Homo sapiens: one gene and its partners. The protein of the gene in region 3 purifies or fractionates together with the protein of the main gene of each other region. This does not show direct contact. Each region holds a gene or a part of one and is shown on either strand. Other genes may lie near its edges.

Region 1 (5,123 bases), on a different chromosome or scaffold from region 3:
CCTTCTGCAAAGGTGCCTTCTGCAAAAAACTGCCTTTCCCTGGAATGTGGGGAGAAGTCTAAGCTGACTGTTCATTTCTGCTTCTTAGGATTTGCTCTAAGATCTTTGGCCTTGGGCCCCACAGCTTGAGTCCATATGTTGGCTTAGGGTCAGTAGAGCGGCTTCCAGTAGAGTGGCTTCTTCTTGGGACTTGGATGCCCTGGAGTTTGGGTGAGGTGTAACTAGTCAAGGAAGGGTGTGTTTGGAGGCTTGGCCTTTAGTGTCTGTTCTTTTCATTCATTCCCACTTGGAGGTTTGCTTTGGGAATGCTCTGAGGGTTCTGAGAGGGATCAATGGGAAGAGTGGGATTTGATGGGCCCTCAGGGTTATCACTAAAACTGTGAGAACCTGTCGTACCTGTTAATTTGTTCATTCATTCATCCATTGGTTCGACTTTGTACTAGGCTCTGGGGTAGGTGCTGAAGACTTAGAGGCATCAAACATGGCCCTTGTCCTTGAGGAGCTCCCAGTCTAGTGAAAGCGTAGACACACAAACGTTAGAGTGATCGGGACGGTCTGCACAACAATGGGATGCCTGTGCCAGGTTTTGAGGTTGGGCAAGGGAAAGAGCATTCAGTTGTGCTTGGAGGAACAAGGTTGGCTCCCAAATGGAGGAGGTTGTGGGAAATTTCTAGGTGGATGAGATGGTGGAGAGAAAGGAGGGCATTCCAGACTGAAGAAACACGTGGGCAAAGGGATGCAGTGTACTGTACCTTGGTGTGTGGTGTACCCGTAAGTGGTTTGTCACGGCTGCAGCACAGAATGGGGCAGTGGCAAGGCGAGAGTTAAGGCTTGAAATAAGCCTTGAATCTCAGGCCAAGGTGCTTGGGCTTTATCTTGAGACTGATGGGCCCATAGGTCATTTGTTAACTGGGGAATGGCCTGATCCAATCTGCATTTTAAAAAGATTTCCTGGTGCTGTAAGGAGGTGGAATGCGCAGCAAGGCTGAAAGGGAGGGATACCAGTTCCGAAGTCTGGAGGAGAAATGGGGGGTGGGATCCAGACACTGGTGGGGCTGCCCGGATGGCCCATGAGGTGCTGGGGTTCTGTGCACATTGAGGGTTGGATGTCTTAACTCTTGTTGCTAGGGGAGGTGGCCTGACTCAGGGCCTGGTGGGCGCTGTGTTCCAGGTGGACACACACATCCATGCGGCCGCCTGCATGAACCAAAAGCATCTGCTGCGCTTCATCAAGCACACATACCAGACGGAGCCTGACAGGACTGTGGCAGAGAAGCGGGGCCGGAAGATCACCCTGCGGCAGGTGTTTGACGGCCTGCACATGGACCCCTACGACCTCACTGTGGACTCACTGGATGTCCACGCGGTGAGTGAGCTTCTGCTCCAGTGCCGCCAGCAGACAGCAGCCCTGGCTGGGGACTCAGCCCCCTGGAAAGCCACCATGATTGTGCTTGCCGGGAGGTGCTACGGAAGCAGCTTTCTCTTCTATCTGACTGAGAGGTCATGCGGCCTCAGAGAATAACAGGTCTGGGGCAGCCATGGGACAGGGAAAGAGGGTGTGTGGCTTGGGGCCTGACAGGTCTAAGCACTAATCCCACTCCTGCCACTTAGGAGTTTTGTGCCCTTAGGCAACTCACAGAAGCCTTTATTTCCTTGCCTATAAAATGGTGACAGCCATGTGCCTTATTAACTTAAAAAAATATTAAAACACTAAATGATGGTGTAACTGCTATGGAAAACAGTATGGTAGTTCCTAAAAAAGTTAAGTATAGAATTACCTATGCCTCAGCAATTCATTTCTAGGTATATACCCAAAAGAACTGAAAGCAGGAACTTGAACAGATACTCACATACCAATGTTCATAGCAGTATTATTCATAGCAGCCAACAGATAGAAACAGCCGGTGTTCATCAACAGATGAATGGGTAAACAAAATGTGGTATATCCATACAACGGAATATCATTCAGCCATAAAAGGGAGTCAAGTACTGTACATGCAACAACCATGAATGGATTTTTCAAAAGATTATACTAAATCGAAGCCAGACACAAAAGGACAAATATCATATGATTCCACTGATATAAGGTCCCTAGAATAGGCAAATTCATAGAAACAGAAAGGAGAGTAGAAGCTACCAGGGGCTGGGGAGAGGAAGGTATGGGAAGTTAGTGTTTAGTGGGTATAGAGTTTGTTTGGGATGATAAAAAAGTTCTGGAAATGGTTAGTGGTGATGGTTGCACAACAATGTCAATGTACTTAAAGCCACTGGAACTGTATGGTTAAAAATGGTTGAAATGGTAAACGTTGTGTTGTACATGCTTTATTAGAACAAAAAAAACTTTTGTTAAACAAAACATTGAATGATATAATGTGGAGAAAGTGCTTTACAAAATGTGAGTAGTGATAGGGAATGTTCTATTATTCAGTGGTGCAGCCTCTCTGCTCACTAAGTCAGCCATGTCCTGAGCCGAGCTGTGGTAACTTGCAGGTGGGGCCTCTGCTGTTCCTTCACAGGGGGCCTTGCCAAAGGATCCCAAGCTGACCGAGTGAGGATCCATGGTCCTGGTGCTCAGGAGTTTCTAAGGTTTCATGCAAGAATTGACATAGAAGATGTCTTTCGGTGTGGCCATACAGAAGGCCGCCTCGTAAAGGTCTAGAGAGGGGAACGTGCATGGTGGCTGCAGAACGATGCGTTGATTGGTGTGGTCTCCCCCCTCAGGGCCGGCAGACATTCCACCGCTTTGACAAGTTCAACTCCAAATACAACCCTGTGGGGGCCAGTGAGCTGCGTGACCTGTATTTGAAAACTGAAAACTATCTGGGAGGAGAGTACTTTGCTCGGATGGTCAAGGTGAGTGAACCCTCAGTCTCTCTGAGGCCTCTCAGGTGCCTCCCAACATCTGCCTTCAGAGAGTGGGGGCCCTGTGTGCCCCTGGCCCCTTCCCCTCCCTCTGTGTACCATCAGCTCAGGGAAGGGTGAGGTGCCCAGGTGCCCAGTGCTGTGGTCTGGCTGCCTGCTCCAGGCAGTGCTGCATGTGCCAACTGCAGGAAAGAGGAGGGAAGGGTATCCACCTTGGCCAAGCTCACAGCACCTGGCCTGGCTTTCGTGTCTCTGCAGCCTGAACCTAGCTGGGTGCAGATGAGCTCCGTGTGGAGATGCTTCTGCTGTGGCCTGGTTCTGCAGACCCAAGGCCTTCCTCACCAGAGGGGGCCTCTCCTAAAGTGGAACAAGAGCTTACAGGAGCAGGCAGCCCTGGGGATTTAGATGAGTGCTTCCAGCCTGGGAGCAAGGTGGCTGGGGGAGCAACAGGACCCTGCTGGTGACGGAGAGTGAGAGTCTCCCATGTAGCTGGGATGCACTGGGGCTGACCCAAGCTCTTCTTGTGCCAGGAGGTTGCCCGGGAGCTGGAGGAGAGCAAGTACCAGTACTCAGAGCCACGGCTCTCCATCTACGGCCGCAGTCCTGAGGAGTGGCCCAACCTGGCCTACTGGTTCATCCAGCACAAGGTCTACTCTCCCAACATGCGCTGGATCATCCAGGTGCCCCGGATTTAGTAAGTGAGGTGGCCCGCTGTCTACCCTGTGCCCTACAGAGGTGACAATCTGTCCCTCATGGGCTGCTGAGTCTGCACTCCTGAGGGGTAGGGCCTGTTCTGGTGCCAGCTTACGCTTGTCCTTTCCAGGGATTTTTCCATAGAAGGAGTGATGAAAAAGATGTCTGCATGACACTAGAGCTCTTTTTTTTTTTTTTTTTTGAGACAGAGTCTCACTCTGTCACCCAGGCTCTGAGTGCAGTGGCATGATCTTGGCTCACTGCAACCTCCACCTCCCTGATTCAAGCAATTCTTTGCCTCAGCCTCCCGAGTAGCTGGGATTACAGGCACCCGCCACCACGTCTGGCCAATTTTTATATTTTTAGTAGAGATGGGGTTTCACCATCTTGGCCAGGCTGGTCTTGAACTCCTGACCTCGTGATCCACCTGCCTCAGCCTCCCAAAATGCTGGGATTACAGGTGTGAGCCACTGCATCCAGCTGACACTAGAACTCTTGATCTTTGAAAAATATAGATGTGCAAAGGCCTTGGGGGAACTACTACCCCCGCCTTCTTCTCATTGTGGGTTGAGGATGGATTGTCCTTTTGGTGAGCCCCAGGGTATGGGGAGAGCTGTAGTGGTCTACATTGCTGGCCTCTCCCTGGATGTCACTCAGACGGCTGCTGTCCTCTCCAGGCGGCTGGCCAGGGTGGAGCCCATGGCTCCAGGATGGGCTGGGGTATGTGGTTTAGGGAAACAGAGCTGAGTAACAGAATGTTTGGGTCACTGGGAATTTGAGGATTCATATCTCAGTCTCTTGGTCAGCCAGAATGCCACCATCCCATTCCTAGTGGCTTCTGGCTTGAGAAAGTGCTCTGATGGGCATGGGTAGGTGTGGAGCTTGCAAACCAAGGCAGAATATTGCAGACATTGCTGGGAGAGGAGGACAGAGGAGGGATCTGTTTTCTGGTCCCATCTGACTTGATTCTGGGTGTTTGATGGGGACACAGGGTGCCTGAGGAAGTGACTGGGGCTGGTCTCTGACAGGGCAGCAGGCTGTTGGATCCACCTGACAAGCGAGTCTTTGCTGTCCCCCAGTGACATATTTAGGTCAAAGAAGCTGCTGCCAAACTTTGGGAAGATGCTGGAGAACATCTTCCTGCCCCTTTTCAAGGCCACTATCAACCCCCAAGATCATCGAGAGCTTCACCTCTTCCTTAAATATGTAAGTGTGGGTGGTGCCCTAGGCAGGGCTCATAGCGGCAGAGGCAGGAATGGATTCGCTGTGAGCTGGGTCAGGCTTGCTCCTGCCCTTCACGATGGTATCTTAGGTCCTGCCACCTGTGTTCCAGGCGTGGGGTCACCAGCCCCAAGAAGCTAGATTTCTAAAAAGTCCCCTTCTCCTCAGGGGCAGCTCTGGGAGTCAGTGGGTGTGGGGGGATGGGGGTGGTGGTCTTGGGGTAGGCCTTTCCCCCAGCAGGGAAGGCAACAGTGGGCAAAGACTGGGAACTCGGTTCCTGCCAGGTGGGGCTGGAAAGGCTGGATCTAGCCCCCGGCAGCACCAAGCAGCAGCCTCAGGTTTTTTTT
Region 2 (5,123 bases), on a different chromosome or scaffold from region 3:
CCTTCCTCTCCATGCTGCCTGCCCTTCTCCTGTGTCCCACCCAGAACACAGCTTTTCCATGGGAACATTTCACTGGGCTGGAGTGATGCCCAGGTAGGGCCTTACTTACCCTCATGGGGTACACAGTACACAGGGCCTTCATCAGTGGTGTCAAACGAGGAGAAGGAGGCCCGAGAGGACCAGGATGGTGAGGGCTGCTCCAGCCCTGAGGGTGGCTCCAGGAAGCTGCAGTTGAGTGTGTTATCCAGGTCGTGGTGGGCCACTGGGGAAGGATGAGGCAGAGCTGCCAGGGGTCCACTCTGCCCCAGCCGGTGCCCTCATTAGCCCCTGCTGTGACAAATGTTGATGGGGTGACCAAGACCAGCCCTATTCTTGGACTGCAGGGGGCACAGGCAACTCAACAGGTACAGTGACACTGGGCCAGGACTGGAGAATGGGTAGAGGTGAACCCAGAAAAGAAACATGGGCACAACATGTGTTAAGGTGCAAGGCAAGTGTGTGCATCCAGGGAGCTGGAAAAGGTTGGGCTGACGTGTTGAGAAAAGGCCAGAAAGGTGGGAGACGGGGCTGAAGAAGACACCTGGCTGGGACAGGCCACCAAGGCCTCCAAGCTCTGTTTTAGGCCCTGCCTTGTGCGAATAAGGAAGCCTTGGAGCACTTCTGAGCCCAAATGCGCAGTGGCAGGGCTGCCCTTTGGCTCAGCCCATCTCAGCAAGCTGCACCCTAGGCCTGGCCTCCAGAGATGCAGACCCCACAACAGGGGGCCCCAGAAGCTGGCTAGCCTGGCCTCCATTCCACAGAGGGATGTGGGGTCCACTCCCCACACCTATGTCCCCAGATGCCATGCTGCTAGGTGGGCCAAGGGGTTTTCTCTCTCTTGCTTGCTTGCTTTTTCTTTTCTTTCGACAGTTTTGGGGTTTCTCCTCCCTCCCTCCCTCCCTCCCTCCCTTCCTTCTCTTTCTTCTTTTCTCTTCTCTTCTCTTCTCCTCTCCTCTCCTCTCTTCTCTTCTCTTTTTTCTTGACAGTTTTGCTCTTGTTGCCCAGGCTGGAGTGCAATGGTGCGATCTCGGCTCACTGCAACCTCTGCCTCCCTGCAACCTCTGCCTCCCAGGTTCAAGTGATTCTCTTGCCTCAGCCTCCAGAGTAGCTGGGATTATAGGCATGCGCCACCACACCCGGCTACTTTCGTATTTTTAGTAGAGACCGGGTTTCTCCATGTTGGTCAGGCTGGTCTTGAACTCCAGGCCTCAGGTGATCCACCTGCCTCGGCCTCCCAAAGTGCTGAGATTACAGGCATGAGCCACCATGCCCGGCTTGGCTAAGGGGTTTTCTCAGCTGTTTCCTTCATCTCCCAAGAGTCTGAGCCCCCTTCCCCTCCATCTTTAGAAATAAGTGGGAAAGAGAGGAAGAGAGGGTCCACCCAGGTGCAAGTCAGCATGGAGAGAAGCGGCACACCCCACCCCCCTATCCTGTTGGTGGGTGGGGACCAGCCTGCCCACTTTCCAGGAGGATCTCTGGGTACTGCTGGGGATGTAGGCAGGAGGGTGGGTCCTCTCCGTGGGGCAGGGCACTCCCGTGGCCACGCATTCCCCCAGCAGCTCTGGCCGGGATATACAGCATTCTCCTACAGACTGGGGGAGCCTGCGGGACCCAGATGTCCACACACCCCTGATGCGATCACTCTCAGGGCCAACGTTTCTGACATATGCCCACATCAGCCGGCGCACCTAGGACTCCTGCCTTCCTACCTTGCCTCGCCCTCAGCAGCTGCCACACCTCTTACCTTCCCTCTGGTCGCACCTCCTCGCGCCCACGCACATCAACACTCAAGGTCCCCCATTTCCTCACTGAGATCTGGACCCCCTCACACCCATTTCCCAGCAGCTTCCTGCGTCGAGAGGTGTTTCTCCCAGATACCCCGCGCTGTCATCCTTACCTACGACTTTGGGTAGTTTCTGCCTCCGGAGCGGGATCCGGGGCAGCTTCATGCTGATGCGACTGAAGCGCCCGCATAGTCGGTGCGGCGCCTTCTTCCTCCCAAGCGAAAGCTCCCTGCGGGGGCGGGGTCTGAGCGGAGGGGCGGGGCCGGGGCGGGGCCCAGGGGCGATTAGATCTCGGCCGGAGCCAAGCACAGAAGGGGCGGGGCCACGTCCGGGGCAGGGGCGCGGAAGGGTTGGATCTGGGTCCGGTGGCACCCAGAGGGTGCGGCCTGAACCCAGGCGAAAGCGGGGCAGTATCTGGGCTCACCGGCGCGTAGGGTCCTTGCCGCGGCAAGCGCAGCAGCAGCCGAGCAGCGAGAGCAGCAGGCAGACGAGCAGGACGAGCAGCGCGCCCGCGCCCATCACGCCCTTGCGCTGGTTGGTTTCTGTAGGGGGTTATGGGGTCAGCGCGGTTTCTGGCACCCCCTGCATTCCTTAACGGGACGCCCCTCATCCACTTACCTAGGTGGCAGGCACCAGTGACCGGGTCGCACGTGTCCTCGTGGCAGCTGCAGGCCTGAGCACAGTCCGCGCCGTGGAGTCCGGGCGGGCACGTCACGTTACAGCTGCCGGGACATAGGGTCAAGGCATGCCACAGCCGCCCCCCTAGGATGCCCCCTACCCTCACCCCTCACCCGCGGCCAGGGCCCAGGGTCCAGGGTCCCAGAACCGGGCTCTCTCTCGCTGCATTCGTCGTCTAGGGATTGAAGCCCCGCCCCGCCCGTGGCACATATTGGGTAGTGGATGTTTTGGAAACGAATGTTGCACAACACTAGTGGGGGGGCCTGGGGGATAGGACCCGTGGTGGCCGCGCCGCAGCGCCCACTGCTGGGGCTGACTCGGCTAGGTGGGAAGAGGGGCTGCTGAACCAGACCCTTGGCTGTAAGTGGAGGTCCCTGGTCCTTCTGTACCAACTCGGGGTCACCTTAAGAGCCCACTGACACAGGCTGGACTGGTCACCAGATCCTGCGCTGAACGTGAGCTCCCCGACATCCAGGCAGGAAACTGCCCCCAAAGAGCCTACTGTCACTCCCTAGCTGGGGTAAGGGACCAAGGCTGAGGTGATAACCCAGCTCAGGGTGGAGAGGCCACCTCGTCGGCTGGACCCCCCTCTGTGGCAGGTACAAGCCCCCAACCCCCTCCCGGTCCCGGGGCACTCACTGGGGCCCGTGGACGCCAGGGCTGCACAGGCAGCGCCCCGACTGGAAGTCGCAGTGTCCGCTGCCGCAGTCGGCGCACACGAAGGCGCAGTCCTCGCCGTAAGTGCCATTGCTACACTTGGTCTCGCACCTTGGAAAGAGGGGAGGAGGCGTCAGCAGAAATGGAGGCAAACGGACCACAGCGCCCTCGACATTGGGGCCTTTGTTAGGGAGGCAGGGCGGGGGACTGCGTGTCTGGGCCGACGCAGGCAGGGCTGCTCACCGGTCGCCGATCCAGCCCGCGTTGCAGCGCGTACACTTGCCGGTGACATGGTTACAGGCATGCCCGTCGCGGCATGGCGGACAGCGGTGGCTGCAGCCCTCGCCATAGAAACCGGTGGCGCAAGGCTGGTCGCACTTGGTTCCGTTCCAGCCGGGCTCGCACGTCAAGCAGCGGCCCTCGGCCACCGTGCACGGCTGCTGGCCCTTGCACTGGCCACACCTGGGGGAGGGGTCGGAGGCTAGGGAAGGCTGGGACCCGCCTCACCCCTGTCCCCATCGGCGGCCCGCCCTTCCACCTCCTCCCTCCCTGGCCGAGAGACCGCGCTTACCGGCGGCGACAGCCCAAGCCGTAGAAGCCGGCGGGGCACGGCTCGCGACAGTACTTGCCGCGGTAGCCCGGCTCGCAGGCACACGTGCCGTCCACAGGGTGGCAGCGGCCGCGGAAGCACTGGCAGTAGCGATCGCAGCGCGCGCCGAACGTACGCTCGCGGCACTGACAGCGGCCGCTCTGCTGCTCGCAGGGAGACGAGTTGCAGGCGCACTGGTTGTTGCAGCTGCGGCCCCACCAGCCTGCGTGGCACAGGCAGGCGCCGGTCTGTGGGTCGCAGCGCGACGTGGCGCTGCAGTAGCACGCGCTGGCGCACTGCGCGCCCCACCAGCCGGGCTCACAGCGGCACGCGCCGCTCCGCGGGTGGCACGTGCCGTGCTGGCACTGGCACGCATGCTCGCAGCGCGCGCCCCAGCGCCGCGCGTGACAAGTACACTGGCCTGTCACGTCCTCGCACTGCCCGTGTGGGTGGCAGCTACACAGCTCCTTGCAGTCGGGGCCCCAGAACTGGCGCGGGCACTCTGCAGGGGAGGAGCGGAGGGGGTGGAAGGCCCCGGTGCTTGAGTAGGTGCCCCCAGCCAGCCGGAACCTGCCCGCGTCCCGCACTCCAGCCGCCACCTCTGGGGACCCGCCCCGAAGGCGGATCCGACCCCGCCCCACCTTGGACCCCGCCCCATCTCTCCAGGATTCCGCCCCACCGACCAATACCGGCCCGACCCCACGCTCACTGGTGTCGCAGTTGGCACCGAAGTAGCCGTGGCGGCAGCGGCACTCGCCAGGCCTCACGCACACCTCGTTCTCTGAGCACGTGGAGTTGCCTTCGCACACCGCTGTGGACGAGACAGGCCAGAGCTGCTGCGCGTCCTAGCCCCGCCCCCTCCCCCGCCCCAGGTCCCCGGGATGACCCACTCACCAATCCCACACTCGTCCCCTTGCTGCCTCCAGCCAGCGCAGCACGTGGGCACCTGGGAGCTGCGAGCAGAGGGAGGACATCTAAGCCCGATGCCCCTCCCCCAGCCCCCATCTGCTCCGGGCTCCTCCGCAGCCTCCGCACAGCCTCCCTGCCTCTGCAGTTGCGCTCCTGTCCTAGGGGGGTGGTTAATGAGGTCCTGCCAGGCAGTCGTCTGGCGGTGGAGGATTGCCACAAACAGACCTCACCGCCAAGAACTTTCCAGCCCAGAACCACCCACCCCATCTCACCTAACTCCTTTGTGTCCTCCTCCCACAGCCATTAGGCCTGAGAAAAGTGGCCTTGGAGTCCCAGGAAGGACAGCAGTGAGGCAGCAGCCAGGGAGAAGACCATGGGCCTCAGGACCTGCCCAAATGTGAGGGTCTAGGGCATCCCTCCAAGTGGAGGGCCCAGCCTAATGGGTGTCATGGATCCAGATGTCATGT
Region 3 (3,846 bases):
TGACTTGCACAGGAAACACGCACCTAACCTCACCAACCTCAAGCCCTCCCTCCTCAAGTCTCCATGCAAAGACTGTGCCAGTCAGAGTGGAGCTGTCCCCCCGACGAGCCCCCAGAAGCACCCGGCCGGCCATGGCTGTCATTTTGAGGGCGGAAAATAACTGGATTTCTGGTTAATTGGTGACATCCTCAAGAGCTGTGGCAAGCCATGTCTCGGCCGCGTGATGGGGCAGACATGGTGGGTCCTGACGGCCTTGTCTTCACCAAGTGCTCCTAACTCTCAGCAAACTTGGGGTTCATGACCGTCGTGGTGGCGCTCTTGAAAAGGGGATTATCCTGGTGGGAAATGCAAACAGGGGCTTGTGAGTGTGGGAGGTTTTCAGAGCAGAATCTTTCTCCCTGAGGACACTCCCCGCATGGAAGCCGTCACTTTGAGGAAGAGCTAGACGTGGGGCAGCCCCCCCAGGGTCCCAGCACCGGCAGCCAAGCTCACCCACAGCGGCGGACGCCCAGAGGACAAGCTGCCTGGGGAGGCCGGGGTGCAGCCACACACGGGTGTCCACGGCCTCCCGCAGCAGGAGGTCGCATAGTGTGGGACGCACGTGCCCCTCTGCGTGGGACCCCCAAGGACGGCCACTTACATTGTTCCACTGGGACTTGAGCTTCTCCTTCTCAAAGCGCCTGTACTCCCGGAGGTCGCTCAGGTGGATCAGAGCCTTCCAGATGACCAGCAGGAGAATGCCGATCAGCACGATGCCTGCCACGGTGCCCCCGACGATGGCGGCGATGTTGGGGCCTGCCACACACTCTAGGGAAGAAGCAGCACACCTGAGCGTCAGTCCAGCCCCATCTCACTGAGCCGTGTGCCCACAGGTCCGAGGTCACCCCACAACACAGCACTTAGAGAGACGGAGGTTCCCAGGGCCCCGGCTCACCATCCATCACCATGGCCAGGGGTCAGTGAGAACCTGGCCCAGCCCCTGCTGGATTCCAGGCCAGGCCCTGTGGTTCCAAATGAAACCTAAGGGCCATTGCCACCACCCCTGCTGACAGAGAAGAAGGCAGGGCCAGGGTACCGGGCAGCCAGGACAGAGTGCTAATACTGGGGGGTAGGACACAGTGCGAGGGACCCCGCTCTCCTACAGCAGAGTTCAGAACCAGGCTCAGGGTCCCTGCTGGAGTTCACTCCCCATACTGTGAAAGTGATTTGTGGTCGTCAAGGACAAGACCAGAGACCAGAGCTCAGCAGGTGAGGCCGGTGCCAGGATGAGCAACGCAAGGTCCTGGTTCCCACGGCAGCTGTGCCCACCTCCTGAGCATGGGGACTGTGGGCCATAGTGGGCCAGGCCCACAGCTGCTGACCCTGGGACAGACACTAGCGTTCAGTGCAGTCCCTGGCCTGGTCTGGCATCCTCACTCCCTGTACCCCTCCTGCCATCCTGACCTGCACCCTCACTCCCTGTGGTTGCTCCTGCCATCCTGATCTGCACCCTCACTCCCTGTGCCCCCTCCTGCCATCCTGACCTGCACTCTCACTCCCCGTGCCCCCTCCTGCCATCCTGCCTTTCCTGGGGGACCTGCCTTCCTTCACCTGTCCTCAAAGGTGAAGTGACTTGGCCAGGATTGCACAAACCAGACGTGACCCAAGTCTGTCCCTCAAAGTGGCCCGCAGGGGTTCCTGCCCTGGCAGGTGGGGGTCTGCAGCCCCAGGCCCACATGTGGGTTGTGAGCTCCAGGCATGTCACCTACAGGCTCAGAGACCCCCGCCGCCTGCCTCGGGTCCCTTCCTGGTGAGGGAGGAGCTCCCAGGTCTCAGTTCTGCAAGAGTCCTGGCCGGCTGCTGGCCATGCCTGATGGAGTCCGCCAGCGGCCCCCCAGCCCCAGCCCCTCTGCCTCTCAGGAGCCTGTGGAACATGAGACCTGAAGAAGCAGGGCCAGTGTCACCAAGGTCACCGTGGGGCTGGGCCTGGTTCCAACTGGAGCTGAATGAGACAGGGTCAGTGCCACCAAGGTCACTGTGGGGCTGGGACTGGTTCCGACTGGAGCCGAATGAGACAGGGTCAGTGCCACCAAGGTCACTGTGGGGCTGGGACTGGTTCCGACTGGACTGGAGCCGAACGAGTGATGGGGACGGTGGTGCCTGGTGGCCCTGGGCCCCTCCAGGGCTGAGAGCCGAGCACCAGGATCTCCCAATCCCCTCAAAGGAGCCTCACGCAGCAACCTGACCGCGGGCCACCCCTGGGGACCTGCAACTGCAAGCCTTGCCCCATGAGGCATCCAGCGGGAGATGGCCCGGGCCGTGTGGCATGCTGGTGGGCCTGCCCGGTGTGGAGCAGTGGTGCCCCCAGGGAGCAGGCCGTCTGCTGCCCAGCTTGATGTGGGGTCAGGTGAGGAGGGGAGGGAAAGGGGAGGCTGCTGGGGGTGAGGGGACCGGCCTCTGGCCTCCTTGCAATGCCAAGGGCATCCCGCATGGCTCATCCACCCTGCTGGGCCCACAACACTGGAGGTGAGATCCTCCTTCCGCACCACCCTCGCCTCTGCGGAGACCCCGCAGCCGGAGCTCTGGAGCCGGTCCCCGCTGCACCCCAGCGGCCTCACCTCGGCTCTCATCCACATAGATGAGGTAGCGGTCCATCCCGTCCTGCTGCTCCAGCGTGTAGGCCACCCAGCAGCCCTCTGAGTCCCTCTCCTTGCAGGTCCTGCCCTTCACGGGGTTGTTCGACAGCTGCAGGCCCGGACACGCCGCGCTGCAGTTCTTCCCAAAGGGGCCCTTTTCGAACTTCAGGCACTCGGCGCAGGAGCTGCGGGGAGCCAGGTGTGAGCATCGGTGCCAGGGTGTGCGGGGGCTCCGGCAACGGGGGCTCGGGCTTGGGTGTGTGTCCACCAGGGGGGGCAGGTGGGGTTGGGGCGCCCTCAGGCCAAGGAGGGGGCCCAAGTGGGGCAGATGCGGGTGCAGCGGGTGAACTGGAAGCCTGATCCCAGGGCCCGCGGCAGGTGCGCACAGGAGGGAGGAGGGACACAGGGGCACGGCGGCCGCGGAGGGCCCCTCAGTCCAGACGCACCCGCAGAGAACCCCGCGGTGCAGAGGTGCTCACTGGGGTCCCCGAGTGAGCCCGGCTGCTGGGTAGGTGGCCGGGGAGTGGGGATCCCTGCCCGCCCTGCCTGCTCCGCCTGCACTCACATGTACTTGCCACAGGGTGAGGGGCAGCCGGGGCACTCCTGGCACAGAGGCAGCTGGTAGCCTGAATGGCACTCGCATACGTTGCAGCGGCACCGGCCACGACCACTACACTCAACACGCCGCGGGTTCAGGCAGCCCTCAGTGGTCCTCTCGCACTGGCACGCTGAGCCCTCAAAGCCCGGGTGGCAGCGGCACTTCCCGCAGAAGCAGAGCCCCCTCCCTGGAAGACGGGGCAGCACGGCTAAGCTCCTGCTTGGCCTGGGAACCGAGACCCGCCCGAAACCCCACTGCGGTTGCTCCCTCCGGCCCGCCTGCCTCCTCCAGCCTGGGGGATGTTCCTGAGCAAAAGGCATGGGGCCACTAGCCAGGCCCTTCTGCCCCCGCCAGCCACGTGGCCGCCTCCTGGCCAGTCTGGACCTCCCCTGCCCTGCTGTGAATGGGACCTCAATAGGGCTATGACCGTTCCTCCTGTGGGCCCTCCCCACAAGGACGCCTTGTCCTCATGGACACAGAAACTGAGGCAGGGCGGGGTGCAGGGCCATCCAAGTTCCTGCTGACGCCCGGTGGCTGGGCGAGACTTGCACTGTCTGTCCTCAGGATCCCCCCTTTCTGTTCCACTCGTTGAATGGTCCAGAACGCACCCCCCAACACCAAGTCTGTGCCGCA
Region 4 (5,657 bases), on a different chromosome or scaffold from region 3:
CAACAGGTGAAAGTGAGTGGGCCCAGGAGGGACAATGAGCATTAATGAATCCATGTAAGGATCTAGGGACAAGAGAAGTGAAGGCTGGAGAAGGGACCACAGCCAGCAGAGGCCCATGCCTCCCTAGTCCTAGCTGGGCCTGACCAAATCCTCCAGATTTCTGAATACCTGGTTTCTGTTTGCTGCCTAGGATTCACAGGTTAGACAGTCCCTGAATAACCCCTGAAGAGTCCTTGCTGGCCATACTCCAGCCCCCGGTCCTATTTATTGTTACAGAATCCCAGAAGCTCTTCAATCTGATCAAGCAGGAAACAATTACTGTCAATGAATTCCCTGCCACTTTCCGTAGGCGTTTGGCGAATCTTCAGTGAGTCTCTTGTGGATGTGGCTCCAACATTCCTTTGCTGAATGTTTCCACTGCTGCTGTCCTTGTGGCAGCAGCAGAGGCTGGGGGCGGCTGTGACCCTCTCCTTCTCACATCGGGGAGTGTGGGTGGGCTGTGTACATAGGAAGTTCATGCTGAAGCTTAATTGAAATGAGCAAGTTGCTTCTGGGCCTCAAGAATAACAGCATTGATGTTCAGCTTAGATTTGAAAACCAAGTGCTTCAGGAAATTCAGTTCAGTTTTTGGTGGTTGATGTTTGGAAGTGTGATTGTATTTTTACTTCTCTTTCAGTATTATTTTTCCCCTTCCCTATAGCAACACAGATATAGCTGGGAGTCAAGAGACCATATCATAGTTATTACTCTCCCAACAGCATTCTGTGTCTGAACTAAGTCACTCTCTACCTCACTAAGCTGCAGTTTCACCTCCTGTAAAATGGGAACATGAACAGTAGATCTCACTGTGTTGTGGTGAGGTCGAAAGCAAAAGCGGCAATCGAGTGCTGCGCACAAGCAAGGCACAGCTGTTATTTCTTCCTTCATATCAGGCAGCACGCTACAATTCCTTAAAATAGCAAAGTTTTCCTTCCCTTTCTAACAGTTTTCACTTTGAATGAAAGGCTGGAGCTAGAACAACGTTATCCATTTGCACAAGGCGCCACAGCCCTGTGTGCCAGGCCAGGCAGCCCTGTGGCATTAACAGGGACAGTTAGATCAGAGTAAATACAACTGTGCCTGCAACCATTTTGCCATGGTTCATGTGCCTGCGCATCCAGATTCTACTGGGACAGGGGTGCTCCTGTGACTTCTTAGATTACTCTGCCCATCACAGATTACAATAGGCCTTTCCAGCTGTGCTGCAGGAAGCTAATTAAGAGGCTTTGCCTGCAGGGGTATGGTGGGGAAGTTGATCTAATATCTGGAACTCATAATCAAGAGCATCTGCATTTAAGAAAAAAACCCTGTTTTCCAGCTGGTCAGCACTCTTCTGGGCTCTGAAGGGAAAGAGGTTTGCTGTAAAGATGGCTCTTGATGGAAAGCCCTCAATACCTTTGAGGATCCTTCACTGTGGCTGTGCAGAGAGATGCCCTTACAGGTGACACTGTTGCAGGGCATGCTATAAGGATCTTCTCCTGACTTAGTGGCGAAGATACAGAAGAAATAGAACCCTCCTAGGCAAATTGAGGCACCCAAACATAACACAATTCATTGGCAGGAAAGGCAGAGAGACCAACGGAGAGGTGGGCAGAGATAATAAAAATGCCAGGTGCTTGCATTTTGATGTTGAGGCCTCATATCCCTCTCATCTTTCTGACATCCCCCCTCACTCTATTCTGCACACTGCCCAAGTCAAAGCTGATTCTCCCACTTCCAGAAAGACCCCAGGATATCCCCAGTATTCTCCTCTTTCCAGGAGGGTGTTGAGGTTGCAGCCAGGCCTGGTTTGATTTCACTCTGCAGGGTGGCCAGATGTGCTCCCAGCAGGCCCTCTCCGCCAGAGCCCCAAACTCCTGAAAGGCCTAGACCATAAAGCCACAAGTAGAGGAAACAAGAGCAACTATGCCCTACAAGGGGCAGCCTGTACCCGTACCCAGAGCACTCCTAGTGCAAGGAGCCAAGACTTTCAGGGCCTGTGAAGTCAACTCTATCACCCCCAACAATGAGTTTTGATTTGAGCACAGATCTGCCCAGTCTCTTGGAGGTTTGGGCATTGCTTGTGGGTGTGAACGCCAGACCCCGATGGTATTTAGGCTTCCTCTGAGGAGTCACTACAAGATTCTACTCATATATAGTTTTACCTAGTTATGAAAAAGAAGTTGGTGCAACCAGGTAGGCTGGAAGCTGCAGCAAAGCCTGGGTATTTGTGACGCAGGTATGGCCTGGTTTTTGAGGTAGAAATGTTGCCTGCCTCTGCCTGGGTCAGTATTAGGGCCACTATCAGACCAGACCTTCTGCTTGAGTTTGTCTCCTAAAGCCAACACATCTTCAGGGTCTCAAAGGAATTCCTGCAATGATAGTGTCCTACATTTACAAACCCAGCTATTACTTTAAGACAGACTCCAATCCTGGCTCCAGTGCACACTTCAGGACTGTGGGAAAGTGGAACCACTCAGGACTCAGTTTCCCCATTTGAACAGTGTGTGTGAGGGCCCAGTGCATTCTCCTGCTCTTCATCGGGCAGGACAAGAAGTGCCACATTGCCCTTGCTGTACCCAGAGAGCAGTGTCGGGTGCCAGCAGTGTCTGAGTGCAGGGCCTGGCCAGGAGCACAGGAGCCTGGGGCACCTTAGATGCTGCCACCGTGTGTGGCCCAGGTTCTTGTCTGGAGTCGCTGGCCGGGGGCCTGGCTGGGTTGGAATAGGTGTACTGCTGGGTGGGCTTTGCCCTTGGCACCCTCCCACGGTGATTATGGCCAAAGAGTTGCCATTTCCCCCTTTCTGCAGTGGCTGGGAGGAGAAGCTGAAAGCGCTGTCCGTCTCAGGCTCTTGGCCTGCGTCGAAAGTCTCTGGTCCACTTCCCCACTCCCTTCTACAAAGCGGCGGCCTCCCGCTTTCCCTCCATGGTCCTCCACCTCCCTCCCTCTCTCCTTCCACCGCGTGCAGGGCTGGTGTCCGAGCGCTCCATGCTGCAAGGTTTTTAGTTCGGGCTTTGTCCCCTGCGCCCCCAGCCCAGTTCAATGCCCCCAGCGGCTTGCGCTCCGAGCCCCGACTACCTGACCTTCCGCAGCCCCTGGCCAGGCGGCTCGGCTTACCCGTGCTGGCGGCCCCGGAGCCTGCTGTGCTGCAGCACCAGCTGGTAGGGCGACTTGGCGGGACCCGCCAGGGTCGCGGCGGGGCCCAGGGCCAGAGCCAGGGCGAGAGCCAGCAGCCGCACGAAGAGCGCCATGGAGCGGGACGACGCGCACCGAGCGAGCTAGCGACCGACGGGCAAGCGGGCGGCTCCAGGGAAGTGAGAGCGCCTCCGCCGCCCGGGCCAGGTTAAGTAAGCTGCGAGCGGGAGGGAGCGGACGCCAGGGGCGGGGAAGCTGGGCCGGCCCGTGCAAGGAGGGCGGGCCGCCTGGCGCCTCCCAACCCGTGCGCCCCTGGCTGCCCTGGGCACCCACCCGCTCCCGCACTGTGCCCGTGCTCAGTTTTCCCAGCCCTTGCCCTCACTGCCAGCCCTCCCTCCCTCTCTCCCTCGCCACAGTCTTCCTCAAACCAAGGGTATAGGTCCCTTAGGCCTCCTGTGGCTGCTTCCAAATGGGGACCTTGGGACTGAGGGACAGCTGTCTCGGGGGCTTCGGTCCTGCATGCTGGGGGCCCGAAGATTCCCTCACTGATCTTGAGGCTACAAAACACTGCAGGGAGGGGTGAGGGGAGGCAGTGCTGATTCCCAGAACACCATGGCCCATCAGACTTGTTTCTGCACCCCAGGAGCTGACCACCCTCCCCAGCTCCTCAATCTCTAATCCCTCCACCCCCACCCCACCTGTCATGCTCATTGAAAGACAGATGAGTAAATCGTGTGATCCACAGAAACGCCAAAAATGTGGGGCAGGTTTTGTTGGGCTCTAAGCTGCTTTTGGAGCCCGTGGGGAAGGGTGGGGTCCTCACCTTGGTACTAATTCATTCCCTTCTTCAGTAAACATCTCTGCAACAGTACCTGCCAGATAGATTCTGCAAAGGCAAGAGTCCTGCCCTGGAGGAGCTCAAGGCAGGTAAACAAATTGTCACATGGTAAAGAGGTGATACTTACCCAAGCATCTATTAATCACCTGTCAGTTACTTGGCACTGCTAGCCCTGGGGAGACACAGATGGATTAATAGAATGAGTGAGACCTAAGCCCTTTGTGAAAAAGCTCCAATTTGGGAAGATCCGTAGCCCAAGCCAATGATGTTCCATGAAGAGTAGCTGGGGCTTTGGGAGCTAAGAAGAGGCACCTGGCCCTGACAGGGTGATACCTGCTCTGAGGCCTGAAAGATGAAAATGAGTTAATCAGGTAAACTGAGGCATGCATTCACGAAACTCAAGTTATCTGGTTGGCTGAAGCACAGGGAGGTGGAGTCAAGGGTAGGGAAGAAGGGGAGGAAGGTAGCAGGGCCCAGACTCCAGCTAAGAGCCTAGCGGGTGATGGGTGGAGGCAAGTGACATGGCCAGTGTCATGAGAGGCTTAAGGAGGCAAGAAGAACAGGTAACCAGGAAGGGACCATGGGAGAGCTTGAACTATGGTGGTAGAGGCAGAGATGGGGAAGGCTGGGCAAATGTGAGGGGTGTAGGAGGTAATAGTCTCAATAGAATTTGGAGTCTGTATACAGGGAGAAGGGGAGAAAGGAGAGTCAAGGATATTGTAGGGTGTTTGTGGTCTGGACATTGCAGCAGGTGATGGTGCCATGTTCAGAATGAGGCACATGCAGAGTGCAGGCTTGCCAGGTAGATGAGTGGTTTGGGACACCCTGAGTCTGAGGTGCTTATGACTCATCCTGGTGAAGCATCCCATGAGGATAAAGCTGGATATGAGGATCGGGGGCTTGAGTGAGGGACGCGGGATGAAGATTCACACCTGGGAGTCATCCTCCAGTGACAGAAGAGCCCAGGAAGTAGAGAATGTGGGGTTGTAGTCAAGGAGGGGTATCCTAGTAGGAGGGCGCTGCTCAAAGTGAGGAATGCTGCCAACAAGACAGATCTGAATGGCTTTCACTGTGTCAGAAGCAGAGAGGCCACTGGGGACTTGGCTGTGGAGAGCAGATGGCCAAAGCCCGAATATGGTGGTTTGATGGAGAGATGAGTAGCATGTAGAAGCTTGTCTGAGAAGGGAAGGGGCGAGTTAGGATGGCAGCCAGGGAAAGAAAAAGACAAGCGGGGCTTGGAGAGGTTAGAACTCTGGTAGAAAGAAGGTGGGAAGGAGAAGGGAGAGAGTGTGGGCACTGGAGGAGGGCCTACTGAGAGCATAAAGCAACTGAGGGCCTGCATGGGGAGTGATCAAGCTAGTGGAGAGGAGGGAACAGGTGTATGGGAGATTTTAGTGGTAGCATTGATTAGACTTGGAAACCCCTTGGGCATGCAGGGTTAGGGAGGGGGAGTAGAGCTAACCTCGAGGCTCATAGCTGGCAGGAAGGGATGCCTGTGCTGGGCACGCTGGTGAAGGTGCACATTTGGGTGTGTGAGGAGAGTGCTCCATTTGTGTTCACATTATGTGTGAACAAGCCACCTGCATTTCCAGGAGGGATGGACAGGAGGGAGCTATATTCAAAGGTCTTGAGCTCAGGATAGGTATGAGGATTGGAGATGCAGATT

Evidence for each region. The genes of interacting proteins can lie anywhere in the genome.
Region 1: the proteins of ITGB2 (region 3) and AMPD3 purify together in Homo sapiens (affinity purification with mass spectrometry; one large-scale study listed by BioGRID and IntAct). This does not show direct contact.
Region 2: the proteins of ITGB2 (region 3) and SCARF2 purify together in Homo sapiens (affinity purification with mass spectrometry; one large-scale study listed by BioGRID and IntAct). This does not show direct contact.
Region 4: the proteins of ITGB2 (region 3) and TGFBI purify together in Homo sapiens (co-immunoprecipitation; one study listed by IntAct). This does not show direct contact.

What each region holds. Positions count from the first base shown.
Region 1 is NC_000011.10:10,492,178-10,497,300, forward strand, and holds part of AMPD3 (AMP deaminase 3), read left to right. Parts: intron 1-1,171; coding exon 1,172-1,366; intron 1,367-2,721; coding exon 2,722-2,853; intron 2,854-3,392; coding exon 3,393-3,556; intron 3,557-4,634; coding exon 4,635-4,761; intron 4,762-5,123. UniProt on the Homo sapiens protein: AMP deaminase plays a critical role in energy metabolism.
Region 2 is NC_000022.11:20,427,289-20,432,411, forward strand, and holds part of SCARF2 (scavenger receptor class F member 2 isoform 2 precursor), read right to left. Parts: intron 4,815-5,123; coding exon of another isoform or gene 4,701-4,814; coding exon 4,642-4,700; intron 4,559-4,641; coding exon 4,457-4,558; intron 4,250-4,456; coding exon 3,730-4,249; intron 3,621-3,729; coding exon 3,402-3,620; intron 3,270-3,401; coding exon 3,141-3,269; intron 2,546-3,140; coding exon 2,442-2,545; intron 2,366-2,441; coding exon 2,248-2,365; intron 2,068-2,247; coding exon of another isoform or gene 2,053-2,067; coding exon 1,937-2,052; intron 331-1,936; coding exon of another isoform or gene 263-330; coding exon 110-262; intron 1-109. UniProt on the Homo sapiens protein: Probable adhesion protein, which mediates homophilic and heterophilic interactions. In contrast to SCARF1, it poorly mediates the binding and degradation of acetylated low density lipoprotein (Ac-LDL).
Region 3 is NC_000021.9:44,886,096-44,889,941, forward strand, and holds part of ITGB2 (integrin beta-2 isoform 1 precursor), read right to left. Parts: intron 3,401-3,846; coding exon 3,181-3,400; intron 2,801-3,180; coding exon 2,598-2,800; intron 808-2,597; coding exon 641-807; intron 336-640; coding exon 273-335; 3' UTR 1-272.
Region 4 is NC_000005.10:136,026,668-136,032,324, reverse strand, and holds the start of TGFBI (transforming growth factor-beta-induced protein ig-h3 precursor), read right to left. Parts: upstream 3,338-5,657; 5' UTR 3,270-3,337; coding exon 3,136-3,269; intron 1-3,135.